Regions from separate parts of the Homo sapiens genome. Here all the other regions are reported to be linked to region 1. The links are microRNA targets in miRTarBase. Many come from high-throughput screens and were not tested one by one. Region 1 holds a microRNA gene; each other region holds the end of a gene's coding sequence.

Evidence for each region. The annotated mature microRNA hsa-miR-4751 reads AGAGGACCCGUAGCUGCUAGAAGG and lies in region 1 at 3,657-3,680, shown strand. An mRNA with a match to its seed (bases 2 to 7 or 8) in the 3' UTR can be bound and repressed. Matches are read on the target gene's strand: a 7mer-m8 pairs with bases 2 to 8, a 7mer-A1 pairs with bases 2 to 7 and ends in A, and an 8mer does both.
Region 2: miRTarBase lists SLIT1 as a target of hsa-miR-4751. Seed matches in the 3' UTR shown: 7mer-A1 at 3,026-3,032.
Region 3: miRTarBase lists CASKIN1 as a target of hsa-miR-4751. Seed matches in the 3' UTR shown: 7mer-m8 at 1,092-1,098.

Annotation. Positions count from the first base shown.
Region 1 is chr19:49,929,417-49,936,528 of GRCh38, forward strand. MIR4751 (microRNA 4751) reads left to right here and starts at 3,648; the gene lies at 3,648-3,721. It overlaps NUP62 (nucleoporin 62), which reads right to left and starts at 88. Exons shown (of 3, transcript NM_016553.5): 1 at 1-88. It overlaps ATF5 (activating transcription factor 5), which reads left to right. Exons shown (of 3, transcript NM_001193646.2): 2 at 1,316-1,612; 3 at 3,006-4,519. The coding sequence starts at 1,435. The coding sequence ends at 3,676. It also overlaps a transcript of IL4I1 not described here. RefSeq lists a silencer at 529-578.
Region 2 is chr10:96,995,200-97,002,300 of GRCh38, reverse strand. It overlaps SLIT1 (slit guidance ligand 1), which reads left to right. Exons shown (of 37, transcript NM_003061.3): 36 at 1-143; 37 at 951-4,263. The coding sequence ends at 1,189. LCOR (ligand dependent nuclear receptor corepressor) reads right to left here. Exons shown (of 8, transcript NM_001346516.2): 8 at 6,345-7,101. Among named protein-coding and RNA genes, the nearest start is that of SLIT1-AS1, 100 kb to the left of the region's middle. RefSeq lists an enhancer at 1-356.
Region 3 is chr16:2,172,333-2,179,433 of GRCh38, reverse strand. It overlaps CASKIN1 (CASK interacting protein 1), which reads left to right. Exons shown (of 20, transcript NM_020764.4): 19 at 109-532; 20 at 788-2,254. The coding sequence ends at 884. It overlaps TRAF7 (TNF receptor associated factor 7), which reads right to left. Exons shown (of 21, transcript NM_032271.3): 8 at 7,060-7,101; 9 at 6,835-6,969; 10 at 6,035-6,252; 11 at 5,880-5,953; 12 at 5,598-5,646; 13 at 5,386-5,513; 14 at 5,101-5,183; 15 at 4,284-4,323; 16 at 4,017-4,133; 17 at 3,812-3,934; 18 at 3,481-3,600; 19 at 3,254-3,385; 20 at 3,050-3,169; 21 at 1,305-2,874. The coding sequence ends at 2,860. Among named protein-coding and RNA genes, the nearest start is that of TRAF7, 20 kb to the right of the region's middle. RefSeq lists an enhancer at 1,105-1,606.

The DNA.
Region 1 (7,112 bases):
CTCTTCTCCAACTGCCTTTCCCGCCCTTTCGCAGCTCGTGGCCCTCTTTAGGGAGCCCTGGGGGGTGGGGAGTCGCGAGCGGGGAATCACGGTCGCGCAGGCGCAGAAGTAGTACGGTGGGCCGAAGGCGCGCGGCTGCGCATGCGCACTGGGCCCGGGGCCGGGTGGGAGAGTTCTAGACTCGATGTTTGTCAGCCCGCGTGCAGCTGGGCCTGAGCACTCCAGGGGAGGGTGTGTTTTTTTTTTTTCTAAACGATTCTTCGTGCTTGGTTGTTCCTGCGCAGTAGCCCACCAGTGCCCCGTAGTGAAAGAGCTGCGGACCCTGAATGGCCGCACATGCGCATTGATCCCCAAGAGGGCGGAGGTGTAAAGGCAATTGGACCGCTCGGGCGACGTAGCATGCGCCTTGGCCCTCGGCGCAGAGCCGCGTGTGGACGGGTGGCGTTCGGGTAGCCGTTCTCCGCGTGCCCCCTCTACCCTCCTCCACCCTCCCTGCCCCACGTTGCTCTGGCTCACAGCCCAGCTTCCTTCCTTTTAAACCAGGCACCTGCTGAGGCGGGGACTGGCTTAGATTGACAGGGCAGAAGGCGGGACCCAGAGGCAACCCTCTAAGTGGGTGGGGATAGAACCACTGTCGTCACGATGGGTGGGATTTCGGAAGCACATTGTGAGAAGGGGCGGGGCTAAACCAACCGTTAGTTGAGGGGTGGGGTTTCGATGTGACAAAGAGGCGGGGCCTCTGGGGAATCGGGGGAGGGGCGGAGCTAAATAAACAATGAGGGGCGGGGCTTGGAGGGGCAGCGGCAGAGCGAGGAGTGGGATTTGAGTGGATAACATTGCTGAAGGGCTGCGGCCTGGGGCAGTTCCCCTGGGAACTGGTTTGGGATGGAAGCTAGGAAGGCAGTGGGGCCAAAAGGAAATATTTTAGAGGAAGGGGCGTGGCTGGAAGAAAATGTCCCTGGGATTGAGTTTTTCCTTGAGGCGAAATATTCTGAGGTGGATGGGAGGGGCCTAAGGTAATTCCCCTGGGAGACCTTTAGGTTTTTTTTTTCTGTATTGGGGGAAGGGGTGGGGCATCGGTCCTACTTTAGGACCTAAAGAAATTCCCTTGGGAGTGGGTGGGGCTCAGAGATTTGGGTAAAGAAAGGGCAAATTTAGAATTCGGAGAGGCTGAGGCTTAGTGTTCTAAACGGTGGTTGGAAGGGGGAGGGAGGAGCCTCATGGACGTGCCTGGGGGTGTGGCTTGGCTTCCCCTTGATTTTGGCCGGTGGATGACGCTGTCCTGACCACACCCACTCTTGTCTCACGCGTGTAGGTCTTCCACTTTCGCCTTGGTGCCTGTCTTCGCCCACCTGAGCATCCTCCAGAGCCTCGTGCCAGCTGCTGGTGCAGCCTCTCCTGTTGCCATCAGTGCCCAGCACCTGTGCTACAGCCATGTCACTCCTGGCGACCCTGGGGCTGGAGCTGGACAGGGCCCTGCTCCCAGCTAGTGGGCTGGGATGGCTCGTAGACTATGGGAAACTCCCCCCGGCCCCTGCCCCCCTGGCTCCCTATGAGGTCCTTGGGGGAGCCCTGGAGGGCGGGCTTCCAGTGGGGGGAGAGCCCCTGGCAGGTAAGGGCAGGTGGAAGGTGGAGCTGGGGAGTGGAGGGCAGGGGAAGATGGGGGAGGAAGAACTCATCCATGTATTCAATAAATATTGAGTGCCTACAATGTGCCAGGCACTGTTTTAGGTGCTGAGGATACGGCTGGGAACAAGAAGAACATGGTCTGTGCCTTCCAGCAGCTCACACTGTGGGGAGTAGACCAGAGATAAATTAAATGAGAGTGTATTGGAATAAGTCAAAAACACCTAGCAGCTGAGCTACAAAATGACAAAGGGGACCTAATATAGAATGGGTAGCCAGAAAACCTTCTCCAAGTAGGTAACATGTTGACTGAGGCATAAATGATGGGAAGGAAGCCAGGCATGATGGCCTGTAATCCCAGCACTTTGGGAGGCCAAGCGGGGAGAATTGCTTTAGTCCAGGAGTTCAGGACGTGGGCAACATAGCGAGACCTCATATCTATAGGAAAAAAAAAATTAGCCAGGCATGGTGGCTCACGCTTGTAGTCACAGCTACTTGGGAGGCTGAGGTGGGAGGATCGCTTGAGCCTGGGAGGTCTAGGCTGCAGTGAGCCAAGATGATGCCACTGCACTGCAGCCTGGGCAACAGAGTGAAACCCTATCCCTTAAAATAAAAAAAAAGTAGGGAAGGAATGAGGAAAACACCCAAGGGAAGAGCATTTTAGTTGGAGGGAACTGTATATGCAGAAGCCCTCAGGAGGCAGGAATCATTTCATTCATTACTGTATCCCAAATGCTTGGCACATAGTGGGTTTTCAATAATTAATGAGTAAAGATGAAACAAGGCATATGTGCGTGTGTATCTGTGTGTGTAATGTGATCTAGTTTGCCTTTTAAAAAGAGAGAATAGAGACACCACAGATACAGAGTACTCGGTAAAGGAGATGTTGGAATGGTTGAAGAAATGCTTGGTTGACTGTTGCTTGAGTCATTGGTTGGTTGGCTGGTTCTTTTTTTCTTTTTTAATTTTTTTTTTCTCCTGGACCCTCTTATGGGTTAAGACTGATTCTTTCATTGGCTAATTTGTTGGGTTTTGGTTAACTGGTTCATTGGTTGATTAATGGGTTGATTGGTTGGTTGACTGATTTATTTGGTTGGTTGACCGATTCCCTGATTGATTGGTCGACTAGTTCATTGGTTGGTTGGTTGGTTGGTTGGTTGACTGGGTGGTTAGATGGTTGATTGTTGGTTGGTTCGTTGACTGGTTTATTGGTTTCTTCACTGGTTTGTTGGTTTATTGACTGGTTTGATGATTCAGTGGTTAGTTGTTTTACTGAATGAATGGGACAGATGCACCTGAATGAGACGTGAGTCAGCACCCAACTACGCAGAAGACCAGCAACTCAGGGAATTTTGTGTCCCTCCCCACTTTAATCCCAGGTGATGGCTTCTCTGACTGGATGACTGAGCGAGTTGATTTCACAGCTCTCCTCCCTCTGGAGCCTCCCTTACCCCCCGGCACCCTCCCCCAACCTTCCCCAACCCCACCTGACCTGGAAGCTATGGCCTCCCTCCTCAAGAAGGAGCTGGAACAGATGGAAGACTTCTTCCTAGATGCCCCGCCCCTCCCACCACCCTCCCCGCCGCCACTACCACCACCACCACTACCACCAGCCCCCTCCCTCCCCCTGTCCCTCCCCTCCTTTGACCTCCCCCAGCCCCCTGTCTTGGATACTCTGGACTTGCTGGCCATCTACTGCCGCAACGAGGCCGGGCAGGAGGAAGTGGGGATGCCGCCTCTGCCCCCGCCACAGCAGCCCCCTCCTCCTTCTCCACCTCAACCTTCTCGCCTGGCCCCCTACCCACATCCTGCCACCACCCGAGGGGACCGCAAGCAAAAGAAGAGAGACCAGAACAAGTCGGCGGCTCTGAGGTACCGCCAGCGGAAGCGGGCAGAGGGTGAGGCCCTGGAGGGCGAGTGCCAGGGGCTGGAGGCACGGAATCGCGAGCTGAAGGAACGGGCAGAGTCCGTGGAGCGCGAGATCCAGTACGTCAAGGACCTGCTCATCGAGGTTTACAAGGCCCGGAGCCAGAGGACCCGTAGCTGCTAGAAGGGCAGGGGTGTGGCTTCTGGGGGCTGGTCTTCAGCTCTGGCGCCTTCATCCCCCTGCCTCTACCTTCATTCCAAACCCCTCTCGGCCGGGTGCAGTGGCTTATGCTTGTAATCCCAGCACTTTGGGAGGCCAAGGCAGGAGGATCGTTTGAGGCCAGGAGGTCAATACCAGCCTGGGCAACATAGTAAGACCCTGTCTCTATTAAAAAAAAAAAATCAACCCTTCTTCCCCACCAAACCACCCAACTCCTCTCTACTCTTATCCTTTTATCCTCTGTCTCTGCTTATCACCTCTCTTGCGTATTTCTGGATCTCCTTCCCTCCTTTCTCGTCCAAATCATGAAATGTTTGGCCTTAGTCAATGTCTATGCCCGTCACATAACAGCCGAGGCACCGAGGCCCACAGGGAAGCAGCTGGGAGCTTGGAAACCTGGTCTCTTGAATTTCAAACCTGGTTTCTTACAGGTGGTTGTCTGGGGTGGGTGGAGTGGCGACAGGATAGAGCTGAAGGACTATGCAAATGAGGAAGTAAGTCAGGGCGGGCTTTGAGAAGGGGACCCATATCCTACAGGCAAAAAGCAGGCTAGGTGACCTTGGGACACTACGCTAAGGGAGGGAGGCTAAAGGCGGCCAGGTTTGCAGTGCGGGAAGATGAGCAGGCCAGTGGGAGGAGGGGCAGGGCAGGGCTGTAGTTGGTGACTGGGTGTTCATTTTAGCTCTAAGAAAAAAAATCAGTGTTTCGTGAAGGTGTTGGAGAGGGGCTGTGTCTGGGTGAGGGATGGCGGGGTACTGATTTTTTTGGGAGGTTATGAGCAAAAATAAAACGAAACATTTCCTCTGGCTTGTGCATCTTGTCTTTGAGAGAAGCAGCTGGGGAGAGGCGGCCTTGTAATCTCAGCACTTTGAGAGGCTGAGGCGGGCAGATCACCTGAGGTCAGGAGTTCAGGACCAGCCTGACCAACAAGGTGAAACCCCATCTCTACTGAAAATACAAAATTAGCTGGGTGTGGTGGCGTGTGCCTGTAATCCCGGCAACTTGGGAGGCTGAGGCAGGAGACTCGCTTGAGCCAAGGAGACGGAGGTTGCAGTGAGCCAAGATTGTTCTATTGCACTCCAGTCTGGGAAACAAGATTGAAACGCTATCTCAAAAAAAAAAAAAAAAAAAAAGGGGGGGGGAGGTGGGGAGGGCCGGGCGTGGTGACTCACGCCTGTAATCCCAGCACTTTGGGAGGCTGAGGTGGGCAGATCACGAGGTCAGGAGATTGAGACCATCCTGGCTAACACGGTGAAACCCTGTCTTTACTAAAAATATGAAAAATTAGCCGGGTGTGGTGGCGGGCGCCTGTGGTCCCAGCTACTCGGGAGGCTGAGGCAGGAGAATCACTTCAACCTAGGAGGCAGAGCTTGCAGTGAGCCTAGATTGCGCCACTGCACTCCAGCCTGGGCGACAGAGCAATACTCCATCTCAAAAAAAAAAGAAAAAGACAGTAATAAAGATAACAGGGTGGGTGCAGTGGCTCACGCCTGCAATCCCAGCACTTTGGGAGGCTTTGCCAGGTGAATTGCTTGAGCCCAGAAGGTGGAAATCAGCCTGGATAACATAATGAGACCTCATCTCTACAAAAAATAATTTTTAAGAAAATGGCTGGGTGCTGTGGCTTACGCTTGTAATCCCAGCACTTTGGGAGGCCAAGGTGGGTGGATCACCTGAGGTCAGGAGTTCGAGACCAGCCTGACTAACATGGTGAAACCCTGTTTCTACTAAAAATACAAAATTAGCCAGGCATGGTGGTGGGCGCCTGTAATCCCAGCTACTTGGGAGGCTCAGGCAGGAGAATCCCCTAAACCTGGGAGGCGGAGGTTGCAGTGAGCTGAGATCGCACCATTGCATTCCAGCCTCAGCAACAAGAGTGGAACTCCATCTCAAAAAAAAAAAAAGAAAAAAAATTAGTGGGTGAGGTGGTGTGCACCTGTAGTCCTACATACTTGGGAGGCTGAGGCAGGAGGATCGCTTGAGGCCAGAAGTTGGGGACCAGCCTTGGCAACATAGCAAGATGCTGTCTCTACAAAAAAAAAATTAGGTGGGGCCGGGCGCCTTGGCTCAACGTCTGTAATCCCAGCACTTTGGGAGGCCGAGGCGGGCGAATCATTTGAGGTCAGGAGTTCAAGACCAGCCTGGCCAGCATGGTGAAACCTCATCTACTAAAAATACAAAAAAAATTAGCCAGGCATGGTGGCGCATGCCTGTAGTCCCAGCTACCTGGGAGGCTGAGGCAGGAGAATGGCTTGAACCCAGGAGGCAGAGGTTGCAGTGAGCTGAGATCACACCATTACACTCCAGCCTGGGCAACAGAGCAAGGCTCTGTCTCAAAAAAAAAAAAAAAAGAAAAGAAAAAGAAAAGAAAGAAAATTAGCTGGGCGTGGTGGCATGAACCTGTAGTCTGTAGTTCCAGGTACTCAGGAGGCTGAGGCGGGGGGATTGCTTGAACCCAAAGGTTGAGGCTGCAGTGAGCCATGTTTGTGCCATTGCACTCCAGCCTGGGTGACAAAGCAAGAACCTGTTAAAAAAAAAAAAAAAAAGACTGGGCACAGTGGCTCATGCCTGTAATCCCAGCACTTTGGGAGGCTGAGGTGGGTGGATCACGAGGTCAAGCAATGGAGACCATCCTGGCCAACATGGTGAAACCCCGTCTCTATGAAAAATACAAAAATTAGCTGGGCATGGTGGTGCACACTTGTGGTCCCAGCTACTCAGGAGGCTGAGGCAGGAGAATTGCTTGAACTCAGGAGGCAGAGGTTGCATTGAGCCGAGATCGTGCCACTGCACTCCAGCCTGGGCAACAGAGCAAGACTGTCTCAAAAAATAATAATAAATAAATACATAAATAAAAGAAAAAAGAAAAAAAAAGTTCTCCACCCAGCAGCAAAGCATCTTTCTTTGCAACAGTGCGGAATTTTACCGGAGCCTTGCGTGTGTGGACAACAGCGACAGTGAAGAAATCCCCCCACTTTTCCGGCCCAGGTGTAGTGGCTGACCCCTGTAATCCCTACACTTTGGGAGGCCAAAGTGGGAGGATCGTTTGAGCCCAGGAGCTTGAGAACAACCTGGGCAACATAGCACGACCCTGTCTCTACAAAAAGTTAAAAAAAACTAACAACAAAAAAGAAATCCTCCCGCTTTTTTGCATTCCAGGAGATGGCTTACTGAGAAGAACCACCCTTCCGTATATGACTTAGATAAGACTTGAGGATGAACCCCTTGTCTAAGACAAGGGCAGACATAGACCCTCCAAATTCCCATTTCGTTGTCTCGTACATGATTAACTGAACTGTTTTGTCCCCAGTGATCAATTGAAACAAAATGCTTGTTTAACCTAACTTACTCTCCTCACTGCCAGGCCTCTGAATTTCAGTCCATCCACAGCCTCAGCCAG
Region 2 (7,101 bases), not on the chromosome of region 1:
GGGGGCACTGTGCAACCAGGCCGGGGCCCTGGCAGAGCCCTGCAGAGGCCTGCAGTGCCTGCATGGCCACTGCCAGGCCTCAGGCACCAAGGGGGCACACTGTGTGTGTGACCCCGGCTTTTCGGGCGAGCTGTGTGAGCAAGGTCAGGGGCCCCCCTCCTGACGTGCCCTCCCCAGGGTCCCCCACAAATTGCTTTAGCAATTTGACTCTTCCTCCCAGTCTCGGCAGCCCTTCTGTCCCTTCCCAGCCCTGTACCATGGGCTACTATGGGGCTTTCAGAGTCCCTCCACCCTCTGGGCACTGCTCCCAATCTCTCCTGGCCCAGTTTGCCCTGCAGCTCCCTTATTCAGGGTATGCGCCTCTTCTGGCTGGGGTCTCTCCTTGCAGAAGAGACCACCCAGGGTAACAGCTCCTGGCCCAACCTCTGCCTCTTGGCCCCATCACCTCATGACCTGGGAGCGGCAGCAGGAAGTCCGAGGGTTGGGGACTCCTTCCCAGGCCCTCCCTGGCCTGCTTGACCAAGATGGCTTCTGCTGGAATCCGGACTGCTAAGGCTGGGCAGGGAGAAGCTGGAGAAACCCAGAACTCAGGCACCTTAAGGGTCCCCTAGGCTATCCCCTCCCCAGCATGAATCCTTTTCATAATGTTATTGCCCCCGGGGCCTCCAGCCTCTCTTGCACGCCTCTAGCAATGGGGACCCCCCCTCCCTCCAGCAGTTCAGTCTGTCCTGGAGGGCCCTGACGCTAGGACCAGACTGTAGGCCCTGGGAGGAAGCTTGTGCATGTCAGTGGGAGGCGGAAGTATGCTGGGGACAGAGGTGGGGTCTGAGAGCCAAAGGATCCACCCCACAGATGCTGCCCTCCTCCTCCTCTTCCTCCTGCCTCCCTGGAGGCAGCAGCTCACCCATGGGTGTGCCCTGAGGCTTTCTCTTGGTGTCTGTCCCATCCAGAGTCCGAGTGCCGGGGGGACCCTGTCCGGGACTTTCACCAGGTCCAGAGGGGCTATGCCATCTGCCAGACCACGCGCCCCCTGTCATGGGTGGAGTGCCGGGGCTCGTGCCCAGGCCAGGGCTGCTGCCAGGGCCTTCGGCTGAAGCGGAGGAAGTTCACCTTTGAGTGCAGCGATGGGACCTCTTTTGCCGAGGAGGTGGAAAAGCCCACCAAGTGTGGCTGTGCCCTCTGCGCATAGCGCTGGGCGTGGACAGGCCGGTGAGGGCGGGCAAGGGGCCCCAGCCGCTGCAGCAGCGGAGACAGTCGCCAGCAGCTGGGCTGGGGTGCAGGTCATCACAGGACGGCTCCTGGGCAGCTGGGCCCTCCTGGGTGGGGTGGTGCCAGAGCAGCCTTTTAAAAGCAAATTGCGCCATAGCTGGGGGCAGCGGGGGTGGGCGAGGCCTGAGCTGCGGGCTGCCCTCTCCGGAAGTGCCTTGCACAAATAGGCGCTTAATAAATATTTGTTGAGTGAATGTGTGCGTGAGGTCAGGCCAAGAAGTGCAGAACGATGACACCCCTCCTTACCTGCTATCTGAATCTGGAGAAGAAAAATGACAGCCTTCCAAACCAACCCTTCCCTTTGGCCTGTGGCCCAGGCTGGCTTGGAACTGGGTCTGTGGCCCCAGAAGCCTCTTACCCCTCTGCGGGCAACCATGAAGTACTGTCAGCCTCCCCGGGAAGCCAGCCTGGTTCATTCTGCTGCTACAGAATCTGCTGGTGGTAGGCCAGGCTCTGGAGCGGGGGTGCCGCCTCCTGCTGGCCAGGGAGGGTCGGACCCTTGCCCCCTGGGCTGACTGGCAGCTCTGCAGCCACGGCTTGGGAACGAGGCTGTGGGTGGAGGTGGTTCTTAGGACCAGGCCTCTGAATCCTAAAGTTCTAGCATGACTACTGTAGCTGCGAGGGCTTATGTGGAGGAAACAGTCACAGGGGCTGCTCAGGGTGGCAGACCCCACTAAAGAGGGCAGAGGGTTCTTTGCTCTAGATAAACAAACATCATCTGCCTCCAGACACTGGCCACAGTAGGAGTATTGGTCCTGGGCTTCCCCAGCCACCAGTCAGCCACAAGCTGTCGGTGACCTATTGGTAGAGGGACTGGGTGTGAGGGTCTGGGCCAGGGTGCTTGACCTGGGAGCAGCTGGTTCAGAGTCCTTCACACCGCAGGCCAGTAGGGAGCAGTGGAAGGGACAGTGCTCCAGGCATTGGGAAGTCCCTGCTGGCTCTATCACTCGGGGCAAACTTCTCCCCACCTGGGCCTTGGGTTCTTCAGCTATAAAATGGCCAGAGGTGGGGGGCGGGATGACTAAAGGAACAGTGCAGACTCCCCCACTGTGGTCTTGGGAGGCCAGAGGAGTTAGAAGACCTATCTATCTATCTATCTATCTACATTGATCACATCAAAAGTATTTATGTGCCTAACCCGGGGCTGGGGATTGTGGACGTTCTGGCCTAATGGACAGATGTGAACTCATCCCAGAGCATCGCAGGAATGACCAGGATGCCCGGGAAGAGTTGAGCTGAGTGGGGGCTCCAGCCACAGACAGCGGCCCAGGCCAGGGAGTTGCTGGCAACGAAGGAGCCAGTGGTGGAAGAAGAAGAGGCCCTGAATATACGATTGCCTGCCCACGTTGTCTTCTCTTCCATACACAGTGAAAATGTAGAAAGATGGTTTGTGAGGCCAAACTGTGAATGGGCTAAAGGGAGGCAAAGTTGCACTCTCCTTCCCCAGAGGGCTCACCAAGAGGGCACACCCCCGGGGGTTCTGGTGGGCAACGGGGGTGAGCATGTCCCTGCCCTGGCTCCCTCCATCTGTGACCAGGAGGCATGGCTGGGTGTATGTTCAGGTGAGGCTCAGAGTGGCATTGTGTCCCTGTCCCCTGCCCAGGGCAGTGAGGGGAGCCCTTGATGCTGATTAGAAGGCTAGAACTGGGGTAGAGGTGCCTGGCATGTCTCATGCCATGGGGACTCAATCTAGCAACTGTGAGTCCTGGGGTCCCTGTGATGGGAAGAGGGCAGTGCCCTGCCCAATGTGGCAGGTGTCCTCATGGCAGGATCTGCCCCTCACCAGGGGGCTGGGATCTACTTGCTTGGAGCTCTGAGCAAGGCCACAATGCCCGCCCCCACCCCCAAGTAGACTGCAGCCTGGGCCTCATGGGGCTTCTCCCAGGCCCACATGGCATCCCTCTCTGAGTTTCCAGGCCACCGTGGGACCCTGCAGAGCATCTGCACCGGGCTGGATAGGGCAGAAAAGCTCAAGGGCAGCTAGCTTGCCTCTTCCCTGGAAGAAAGGTGCTCTGGGACTCACCAACCCTGAGAAAGATAGCTTTCCTGGCCACCACCATTCCCCACCACCCTGGAGAAGCCAATTCCCAGGCTTGAAGGGCACTGGCTGGCAGGAGGCCTCTTCATTCTGCAGGAGGTGGAAAGGACACCTGTAGACAGGTGATGCTCACCCCTCACCTGGCGCCATGGGGCTGGGAGGTGAGCGGCTGGCATGTTTGTTCCTAGGGAGCACCATGTGAGCTTAAGGCTCCCCTGACCGGCCCCACCACATGGCCCAGCCTCCTAGCACAGCAGCGCTGACCTCAGTGCAGTCTGAGGATTGGAATCCACCATGAGATGATGTGAGAGCTGTGTGCCCCAGGATCAACTTTTTCTCCAACTTGGCCATCAGCCAGCGAGTTGCTAAGGACCTGAGTCAGCACTCACGTTGCCTATTCACACTCCGCTTGAAAGTCCGGAAGGTGGCTACTGCAAAATCACCCCTCTGAGAAGTCCTCTCTCCACATCTTGTCCCCCTTTGTGAAGACCCCTAGTTCGCTCTGCATTTTAGGCATGAAGAGATACAGCAGGGTGCGTCCGGAGGGAGCTGTGGCCTTGCAACACCACTGGCAACAGGGCCGGGGCTCCCGGTGAAGGTGTCAGGAAGTGGAAAAGGCTGGACTTTGTCTCCTCTTTGCCTGCTGGTAGCCTAACCGCAAAAGTATCTCTTTATACAGAATACTTACAGATTCTAATATATATTTGTATTTCATTTTGTTACAGTATTTTTATATGTTAAAGTCAACATCCAGCGTCTTGTTTTGCCTTTCAGATGCTATGTGGTCGTGGCACGTTTTGTTGGGGGTTTCTGTAGTCGTCTTGTTTGGATCAACTCCTAGAGGCTGGTTTAGAACAGGCCCATGAGGGAGCTGCACCTGCCCTGGAAGTATTGTTTTAGACTATGTCGATATTGTCTGTTGTCTTCCATGTGAACATGACATTGAGTCACTCTGCCTTGTTGGTCTCTTTTTCTCCACCAAGGGCGGGCCGGGTGCTGCTGGCATTCTCTCCTAGGGCTTCTGGGCTGATCGCATATGGGCCATCATCCAGGGATGGCTCCAAGGGGCTACACACGTAGGATGTCTGTCCCTGGAACTCCCTGCTTTTCCTGAAGTCCATTCCTCCTGAAGGAGGGGGTCCTGGGAGAGGGCTGGGGGACACCCCCCCGGGGTCTGTCAGTGCACGGCCGAGCTGGGGAGGCTGCTCATCCTCATCTCCCTTCAAGTAATTGCCGTGACATGGACATTCTGTAAGTTTGTGCACAGAGCCACACCCATCTTTAATTTGGCTCTAAGGGTTTCGGAGCCATCGGGGCAATCTATATAGTGTGACTTCTCAGATGCCCTGTGAGGTTCACTTTCCTGTCCCCAGCACAGTGGCTCTTAGAAATTGGTGGAGAAAGCAGGCACACACACATACGTCTGCAGTGGCTCCATCACCATTCAGATGAGAACACTGCAAGCACGATTTTATAGGACTCACTCACTCAGGATGGATGTCTGGGTAAGGCCAGGCCTGGGCAGGCAGGCTGGGCAGGGTCACTGACACTAAAGGGAAGCCTGAGCCGGGACCATGAGCCAGCGCCATGGACAGGTTTCTGTGGAAAATTGGGCCAGGGCAATGGTCACACAAGCCACACCTTAACAGCACATGGGTCATCTTGAAAGTGGCCACTTGATATAACTTCAGTGCCTTCAAAAAAGTCAGGGATTTTGGAGGAAATGTAACGAACAGTGTGCAGGAGAGAAAATGCGTTCCAATGGGGTTGGATGCTCCCGTCTCACAAGGTCAGTTGGTTACCTGTCAGTCACCTGGCTGTCACTTCTGATAAGGCTGCACGTACACAGACCCATTCCCCTGCCGTGAAGAAACAGTGACAAATGGGAACTGACAGTCAGGGGCTGTGGTGACCTGAAAGGCACGTTTTCCAATCTCATGCCAGCTGACTCTTACCGTGAGTTAATTCTGTCAAATCTTCATCTTTTTAATTTTTTTACAAAAGTCAGAACTCTCAATCTTTATGTAAAAAAAAGCTCACGAAGTATTTTTTTAAACACTAGGCTAAAGAAAACACATCTGTAGGCCACCAGTTTGCTATTTCTGAGTTAAAGTAAAATCAGTGGCAAATTTCACTGCTAAAGGGAAATCCCCAGCCAAGGGAATGGGCACAGCCGGGCTTGGTTGGGAGGGTGGAGGCCAAAAAGCAGTGCCCAGACTTCCAATGGGCGACATCCTGATTACTAGAGCTGCCAAGTTTTCCTGAGATTGGTGATGACACATCTCTAGACACATCTCTATCATCCCTAAGCCCAAAGCCCTCAGAGTTAATTTTTGAGATGTCCCCTCACCCCAAGGCAGCCAGTCTGCACCTCTTGGGTCAGTATTTTCATTACTCCACTACAGGATGACTACTGGAGGAAAAGAGGTCTATCTTAACAATGAAAACAACTAATCTGGAATGAGGTAATCTTCCAACTTCAGATTCAGAGGGGTGGCCTGGCAGTCAGCTGTGGGGTTATTTTTGCTGGATGTGGTTCTGCACAGTGATGGCACAGTCAGATGAGCCGCTTGTGGGCCCTTACGCTGACCCACTTCAAGCAGAGTTGAAAGAATATAATGAAAAACTCATGAGGCTAGCAAATCGAAGGACTTTTTCTGCCATACTCCAACAAGGGCATTGAGAGCTGGGGCAGCCCTGGCCTGTGGCCTGCACACTTCCCAGTGGCTAGCCTGAGGTCAGGAGTTTGCCCTCCATTGCTCCCTGCCCCTCAGGATGAAATGCTGGCACCTTTCCAACCCTGCCATGGGAATCTCAAGGATTCCTCCATTGCCTTTTCTTTTCCCTGAAGTTAGGCAGAACTCACAAAATGATTTATTACTTACATTAGCAAACAAGGTTTCTCTAAGCCCTGACACTTGGTGGAAGTATTGCTTTGTGGTTCCTTCTGGCAACTCATCAATTTTGCCTTAGGCTGCAAGTTGAATGCCCGGCTTCAAGGCGTTCTGTGCCCTCTTCAGTGACTACACAGACACACTTGAATATCAAAGAAGTTTAATACGCTGCCATAAAATAAGCGCCTTGAAAAAGCTCATGGAATAGAAGTCAGTGTTAGAGAAACCCCTCCCACACATCCTCTGGCTCCACACCGCATCCTTCAAAACCAAACAAGAGAATCTGAAACAACACAGGACATCCTTCCAAGCTTGGATTTCAGTGAGGGCCCCTCTACCAATAACAAGAACACAGTTTCCTACATGGCCTGATAGGAAAGCAAAACACAGAAGCACAAGAAGTCTACAAGATTTCAATATTTAAGAGACTTGGTACATATTCAAAGTTAAAATAACTCCAACTTTTATAGCTATACATATTGTTTTAAAGCAACTTAATATATTTTAAAATTTTATATATACACTCTCAAAGGTTCTTCAGGTGAGGTATGTAAACATTGTCTAATGAAAAATTTCAATGTTTCAAACCAACAAATTCACAGCATACATTGAATTTTCATCCATTAAAGACACAGTATATTCCTACACTCACTAACATAGTAGAAATCCAGGCCCAAGAGCTACAGACTGATCTTCCGGGTGGCCACTTGCAGAATTTCTCATTTCACTGCTTCGGGAAAGACACTGTCACACAGGCCAGGAGCACACGCTTGGTACCAGGAGGGCGCTAGGCCCTCTGGAGGCCCTGTCCTTGGGCAGCTGGATCACTGGCTAAGACTCACAAGACAGCAAAAAGAGCACAACTGAACAACTACGAGATCGACCTCAGCAATGACAACA
Region 3 (7,101 bases), not on the chromosome of region 1:
GAGCAGGGTCTTTCCCGGTCCGCTGGGGAGGAAGCCGCGGGAGGCTGGGGCAGGGGGCGCGGCGGCGGAACTCGTGCCCGCTCGGTGCCAGCGTGGTCCTCCCCGCAGAGGTGAAGCGCGCCCACGGCACGCCACCGCCCGTGTCTCCCAAGCCGCCGCCGCCGCCCACAGCGCCCAAGCCCGTCAAGGCGGTCGCGGGGCTGCCTTCGGGCAGCGCCGGCCCTTCACCCGCACCCTCGCCCGCGCGACAGCCGCCCGCCGCCCTCGCCAAGCCGCCCGGTACGCCGCCCTCGCTGGGCGCCAGCCCCGCCAAGCCCCCGTCCCCCGGCGCGCCCGCGCTGCACGTGCCCGCCAAGCCCCCGCGAGCCGCCGCCGCCGCCGCCGCCGCCGCCGCCGCGCCCCCCGCCCCGCCCGAAGGCGCCTCGCCAGGGGACAGCGCCCGGCAGAAACTGGAGGAGACAAGCGCGTGCCTGGCCGCGGCGCTGCAGGCGGTGGAGGAGAAGATCCGGCAGGAGGACGCGCAGGGCCCGCGGTAGGTGCGGGGCGGGGCCTGGCGGGCGGAGGGCGGGGCTCGGCAGAGATGGGCGGGGCTCGGCAGAGATGGGCGGGGCTCGGCAGAGATGGGCGGGGCTCGGCAGAGATGGGCGTGCCGTGAGCGGGGCTCCGCCGAGGTCGTCGTGCGGTAGGCGGAAGCCGACGGAGATGCGGGACGTGGGCGTGTCCTGGTCGGGGTGGGCGTGGCCAGACCCGCCCCGCCCACTCACGCCCCTTGCCCCGCGCCCCGCAGCGACTCGGCGGCGGAAAAGAGCACTGGCAGCATCCTGGACGACATCGGCAGCATGTTCGACGACCTGGCCGACCAGCTGGATGCCATGCTGGAGTGAACGCCGCCTGGCCGGGCCCTCCCGCGCCGCCCGGGCCCTCCCCGCACACTGACCTATACCTCAGGATGGGCGCGTCTGGGCGCGGCGCGAGCGGCCGGGCAGGGCCCTGCAGAAGCACAACTCCGGCCCCTGGACCCGGGCCGGGGCGCCCACCGGGGACCGCCTGGCCGGGGGCTCCAAGGGCTCTAGGCAGACCCTGCGCCCGCGGGTCCTCCCCACCTGCTGCTCCCCGTGCAATACCTGCTGGGCCTCCTGCCCGCGCGGGAGGGGAGGGCGCCCCGGGACCAGGGATGGGGCAGCGCACAGGCCCGGGCCCAGCACAGAACTGCCCATCGGGACGCCCGGCCAGCCGCTCGGGCGCAGCACAAGGGACAGGGGACCAAGGTCAGGGCCCCCCTGCCCCACCGCACCCCCAGAATATAAGCTATCAAGAGTATTAATTTATTGGGAATGAGCTGAGGCGGATTTCCCCAGAGAAACAAAAAGGTATAACTTTAACAAATATATATTTAAAGAAAGAAATATTATTGATTCTATAGAAAACCATTTACCAACTGAAAGGACACGAAGTCTAGCTCCGGACAAAAGCTGTTAGAGGCCCAGGCTGTCTGCCTGCGGTCCTTCCTCCGGCCAGAGTGGAGGCCCCAGGCTGCTAGCACAGGTGGAAGGCTGGGGCCCGGGGGCGGGTGCTCTGCCGGGGGCTCCTCCGTGCTTCTCTCCTAAGTTCTCTGCGCCCCAAGAACTCGAGGTTGTGCCTTGCTCTCGGCGGCCGTGTCCTCCTCCTGGCGTGGCTGCGTCCCAGGGCGCGGGTGGGTTTGGTGAATGTGGGTGTGTCAGCGTGGCAGCCACGTGGAAGCAGGGCATGTAGCAGGCCAGGCCACGGGCTTGCAGCTCCTCTGAGGGTGTGCCTGGCCCCCTCTCCAGGGGCTGTGCAGGCAGCCCATCCACCCCAGTGGAGTTCCCACGGACGCTTCTGCTCATGGTCCAAGGCTGTGTTGTGTGGTCATTCTCGCCCTCCCTTTTCCTCTCTCCTCCTGCCCCCTCCAAGAAGTACTGACTGGTCTCCTCTATCGTGTTTGCTGATCCACAGTGTTGGGCACAACTTTGACGTTTCTTAAAAAAAAAATTTAAAAAATGCCGAAAACCAGCGATTGTGGTGTGGGGCGGGTGGAGGCGGCTGGCGGAGGTGGCGTCCCGGCGTGCAGGGCCCCTTCCTGCTGTCTCACCCCGTGTTTCCCTGCGAGTGGACGTGCCCAGCTGTCCCCCCAGGCCTCTCCTCAGAGGGCGGCACAGGCTGGGCTCCAGCAGGTGGGCAGGGGAGGTCTGGGCAAGGCGCTGCCGTCGGCTGTCAATAAACAGCAGGAAACAGAGGTGCCTGGCTCACTTTTTGGGGGCACATGTGTTGGGGGAGATGGGACTGGAGGCCAGCAGCTTGGGTGTGACGAGTTGCCTCCTAGCAGGGAGGGGAGGCCCCGGAGTGGGCCGAAGTCCTGGGGTCCACCAAAGGAAACTGCCCCATGCCCCCCCACTCACAGCAGCCAGTGCCTGTGCACACCAACCTCAAGGCCACACACAGCCCCCTTGTCCCGAGGAGCTGTCCCCACTCACAGCCACAGTCTGTGGAGCATTTATTTCAACCAGGAGGTAACCAAATCTACATACAGTCTAAAAACGGTAGAAAAGGTGAGTAAAAAGGCCCTCGCTCCATCTAGGGTGGGGATGGAGGGTGGGGATGGAGGGTGGGCCGGGGCAAGCGTCGTACCTGGCACCCAGAGAGGGGCTGGGCAGCAAGGACAGTGCCGAGTAGAGGGAGGCTCGCCGAGCATGGGACGGGGAGGGCACTGCCCGGCTGCCAGAGCCTGTCCACCTATGCCCACGGGGCAGGCAGAAACCCCGAGACCACCCCATGTGGCCAGCCTGGCTCAGAAAGGTCCAGGGCTGGTTCAGGGGAAACCACAGCCTGGCCTGGATCCTGTTAGCAAGTCCAAACCTGCAGAGAAAGGGCTGCTTCACCAGGATGTCCTGCGGCCGGCTGCCCTGCCCCAGCCACACCTGCCACACGTACCTGCCCTCCACCACTTTGTGCTGGGGCTGCCAGCTCCTCGTCCCCACCCCCGCTCCATCCTGTGCAGCCCCTTTGAATGGCCTGAGCCACGGGCACTGACCTTCACAGTGCTATCCACAGCCCCTGAGAAGAGTCGGCCCCGGGACACAGCCAGCGCGGTGACACTGCCCTGGTGACGCAGCAGGGTCTGCGTGCAGATCATGTTGTCCATACTCCAGACCTGGGGGCACATGGGACGTGAGGGCCCGCCGGAGCTCAGCTGCCAGCCCTCTGAGCCTCCTGCCACCGCTGGGCCAGCACGCACCCTGAGGGACCGGTCGTAGGATGCACTGAAGACTTTGGTCTGGTCTGGCGTCGAGATGACCGCCAGGGCATACACGGTGCCCACGTGGCCCGTGAGGGTCCGCACCTGCTCCTTGGACTCAATGTCCCACACCTGGGAGGGGTGGGCACAGGCAGGTCAAAGACACTGAGCAAGGCGGGGGAGACGGGGCCACAGTCTGGCCTTGCACCCAGATGCCCAGGCCTTACGTGGATGAGGTTCTCGTAGGTGCCACAGACAATGTGGTGATTTGTCACAGCAATGGAGTAGACGCTGCCACCAGACGTCTGCAGGACGTGGATGCAGTCAAGGGTTCGGATGTCCCAGATCTATGAGTAATCGTGGGCCAGTTGGTCCCAGGCCAGGTGCTTCACCCCCAGGGCCCCCGCACCCCCAGGGCTTCAGCACTGCTGGGCAGCCCACCCACCCAGCCAGGGGATGTGCGAAGGTAGGAACAGGGCAGATGGAGCCCCAGGTGCTGGCCTGGGAAGTGCTGGTAGGAGGCAAGGCCCTGTGGCCACCAGGTGTGCCCAAGCGCACCTTGATTGTCTGGTAGGAGCCGCTGTACAGGTAGCTCTGGGCAGCCACCAGGGCCCGCACCCAGTGGTTGAGGCCTGTGAGCTCCTTCTTCAACTTCAGCTCAGTGCCCACGATGTCCCAGACCTGCAGGGATTGCTGCAACTGTGGGCTGGGCGGGCAAGGGACGCCTCAGTGACACACACGTAGGCACAGCCTCCACCCGTACCTTGATGGCCTTCAGGGAGCCGCTGAAGAGCACGTTGTGTGAGGAGACCAGCGTGCACACCGGGTTGTCATGGGCCCGGATGGTGTTCACCTTCTGCAGGTTCTGGATGTCCCACACCTGATTGGGGAAGGACCGGCAGCCTCAGGGCACCAAGCCCTGCCACCTGGAGTCTGGAGCCCAGACGGGGAGAAACACGTCCCTGGGGCACCTACAGACTGGGGCGGGCCTGGGCCGCCTCCTGCCCACCCGCCTGTAGGCCCCACTCACAATGATGGTGCAGTCTGCAGAGCCGCTGTAGAGTTTGCACCTGGGGAAGCAGAGACAATGTGTCAAGGTGGGAGAAGCTGTGTCCATGCTGACACCGCCCTGGCAGGGCCCGAGGTCCATGCCAGCCATCAGGAACCAGCAGCATGGCCCAGGGCCAAGGCCACTGCTGTGTCCTTAAGCGTCAGCCTATTTTCCAGTCTCCACATGGGAACCTTGGAAGGGGCGGGCCAGCCCCTGATGCCTGCCTGGAAAGCATTTGACAGCGAGCTGGGAGGTAATTACCCACCCGTCAGCCCTGAGTCAGTCCCAGGGCCGGCTGCTGGCAGTCAAGCTGCCGCCTCCTGAAAGCGAGCATCTCTCACGCACACGCTTACTTGCTCGCTCCCACAAAGCCTCACGATAGGAGACAGGAGGCAGGCGGGCCACCTGGAGGCAAGAAAGTGGCCAAGGTAGTTGCTCCGTAGTCTCTATGCCCTGGGCTTTGGCTGCAGGCAGGGGAGAGCTGAGCTCCTGCCTTCACCCCCTAAGGTCCCCCCTATCTTCTGGTTGCGCAAGGTGCACCTGGGCCAGGACAAGGTTCTGCTGGGAGGCTGGCTGCGCCAGGTATTGGGAACACACAACTTTGGAGATGGTGTAGGCCACACAAGGGCCCACACACTGCTACCCAGGAAACAGTGCTGCTCCGGGTGGAGGGTGCCCTATAGGTGGGGCACACACATAGCTACACAGGCTCGAGCTCATGGCTCACGGCCCACGGGGTGGCAGCGCCACGTCTCCTGTCCTGGGAATCACTGATCACACATGTGCCTGGACTCACCCCTGGATGCAGAGAGCCAGCACGATGCCATCATGGCCCTCCAGTGTCTTCTGACACTTGTAGGTGGTACATGTGTCCCACACCTGCAGAGACCAGGGCCACAGTGGGTCCCAGCAAGGTCAGCCCAGTGTCAAGGGGCAGCATGACAGGAATGAGTGAGGGAGCCCCGCCCATGGGAGAGGGCCCTGCCCAGAAGGTCCCACCCATAGGCAGGCTGGCAGTGCCAGGCATGTGGCAGTGCCCAGCCCAGCCAGGCTGCAGAGACTGAGGTAGGACCCTGCCCACCTTGATGGTCTTGTCAGAGGAGCCACTGAAGAGCAGGTCACCCATGGAGTAGACGCAGAGACACCACACAGGGCCCTGGTGGCCCACAAAGGTCCCTTTGCACTTGAAGATCTGCTGAGGGTCGTAGGCTGCAGAGATGGGAGCAGTGGGTGAAGGCCCAGTTGGGGCCCGGGGGGGAGGGTGGGCGGGAGCCACGGCGGGTCCATACTCACAGCCTAGGATGCCCATGTTCAGCCGCGCGTTGATGTGGGACAGCTCGTCCTGCAGGGCCAAGGGCAGGGCAGAGGGCAGGTGGGCAGGGCTGCTGTGGGGCCAGTGCAGCCTCTCTGCCCCTGCTGCCCTGGGCCAGGGGTGGGCAGGGGTGACAGCAGCCCCTGCCACACACAAGACCCCTGATCTTGACTAGTGTAGGCAAGGCCAGGGGAGGCCTCCCTGCCGGGGCCGCCGGCCTCCCCGGGTCTCACAACCCAGCCCCTCCAGCCCCGCCCGCTCACATTTAACATGGATGCGTCCCGCCGGAACTCCATGAGGTCCTCGCTGAGCTTGCTCTGGTTTTCGTCCAGGACGTCTGAGTAGCAGGAGGAGAGGGGGTGTCACTGGTGCCCGGAGCAGTGGCCAGGCCCCTGCCTGCCCCGGTGCCCACCCTCACCAAACTTGAGCTCCAGGCTCTTCTCTAGCTGGTCGATCTTCTCCGAGAGCTTTCCCAGCATGGAGCGCAGGAAGGCGATCTCCTGGTCCTTCTGGGCCAGAGCCACGTGCATCTCGTGGAAGCGGTCATCCGTCTGCTGCAGAAACTCCTTCAGGCCCTCGAAGCGGCAAGTCTCCAGGTGGGTCTCGTAAGTGTCCTGGTTCCCGATGAACGTGCACCTGCGGGGACAGGACAGCTGCCTGCCTGGCGGGTCCCTGCCGGTGCCTCCCCATCCCCAAGAATCCCCCTCAAATGCTCCAGCCCTGTGGCCGCTGCACCCCAGGTCCAGCTGCCCCCACCCACACCTGCCGTCCTGCCCCTCCTCCCCATCCAGCTACCCCCAGTCTGCTTCACAAGTGAGATCCCATCACGTCACCCCCGCAGAGCTCTTCAAGGGGTCCTCCCTTCCTGAGGATAAAACCCACGCTGCTTGGCAGCCTCCCTGCCCACCTCCCTGCCCTGAAGAACTGGGCTCCTGCCTCTCCTCCCACCCCCACCTCCCTCTCCAAAGCTCTCAACCCCAGCATTTGCTCAAATCCGCCCATGCTGGGCCGGCTGCGGGAGCGTCCACGCCCGCCTTCCTGGACGCCCTCGGCTCCCCCTCTGGGTTTCCAGGGCCTTGGGCCTCAGAGAGGATTACAGACCCCGGTGTGGCCCCAGCTCCGGCCTACCTCCCCGGGACCAGCAAGCGGGCAGCTCTCAGCGGAGCCTGTGGAGGGCCTGCGCCCACCCCGGCCCACCCCCGCCCGCCCCCCACTCACCCGTACTTGGAGTGGGGGCATTTGATGTGCTCGCACTCCTTGAGGTGGGCCTCCAGGTTCATCCTGAGCAGCGGGGGGCAGCTGGGGTTGTTGGGACACCGCACAGGCCTGTAGTCACAGCTGCCCTCGTGGTCCCTGTGCCAGGGCGGGATGCGGGGAGGCCTCAGCCAGAGCCCTGAGAAGCAGCCCCCAGGGAGGCAGAGGTGCCCAGGGAGGGGCACTTACTTCCGGGCGCTGAGCTTGATGGTGAAGGGGCACCCTCGGGGG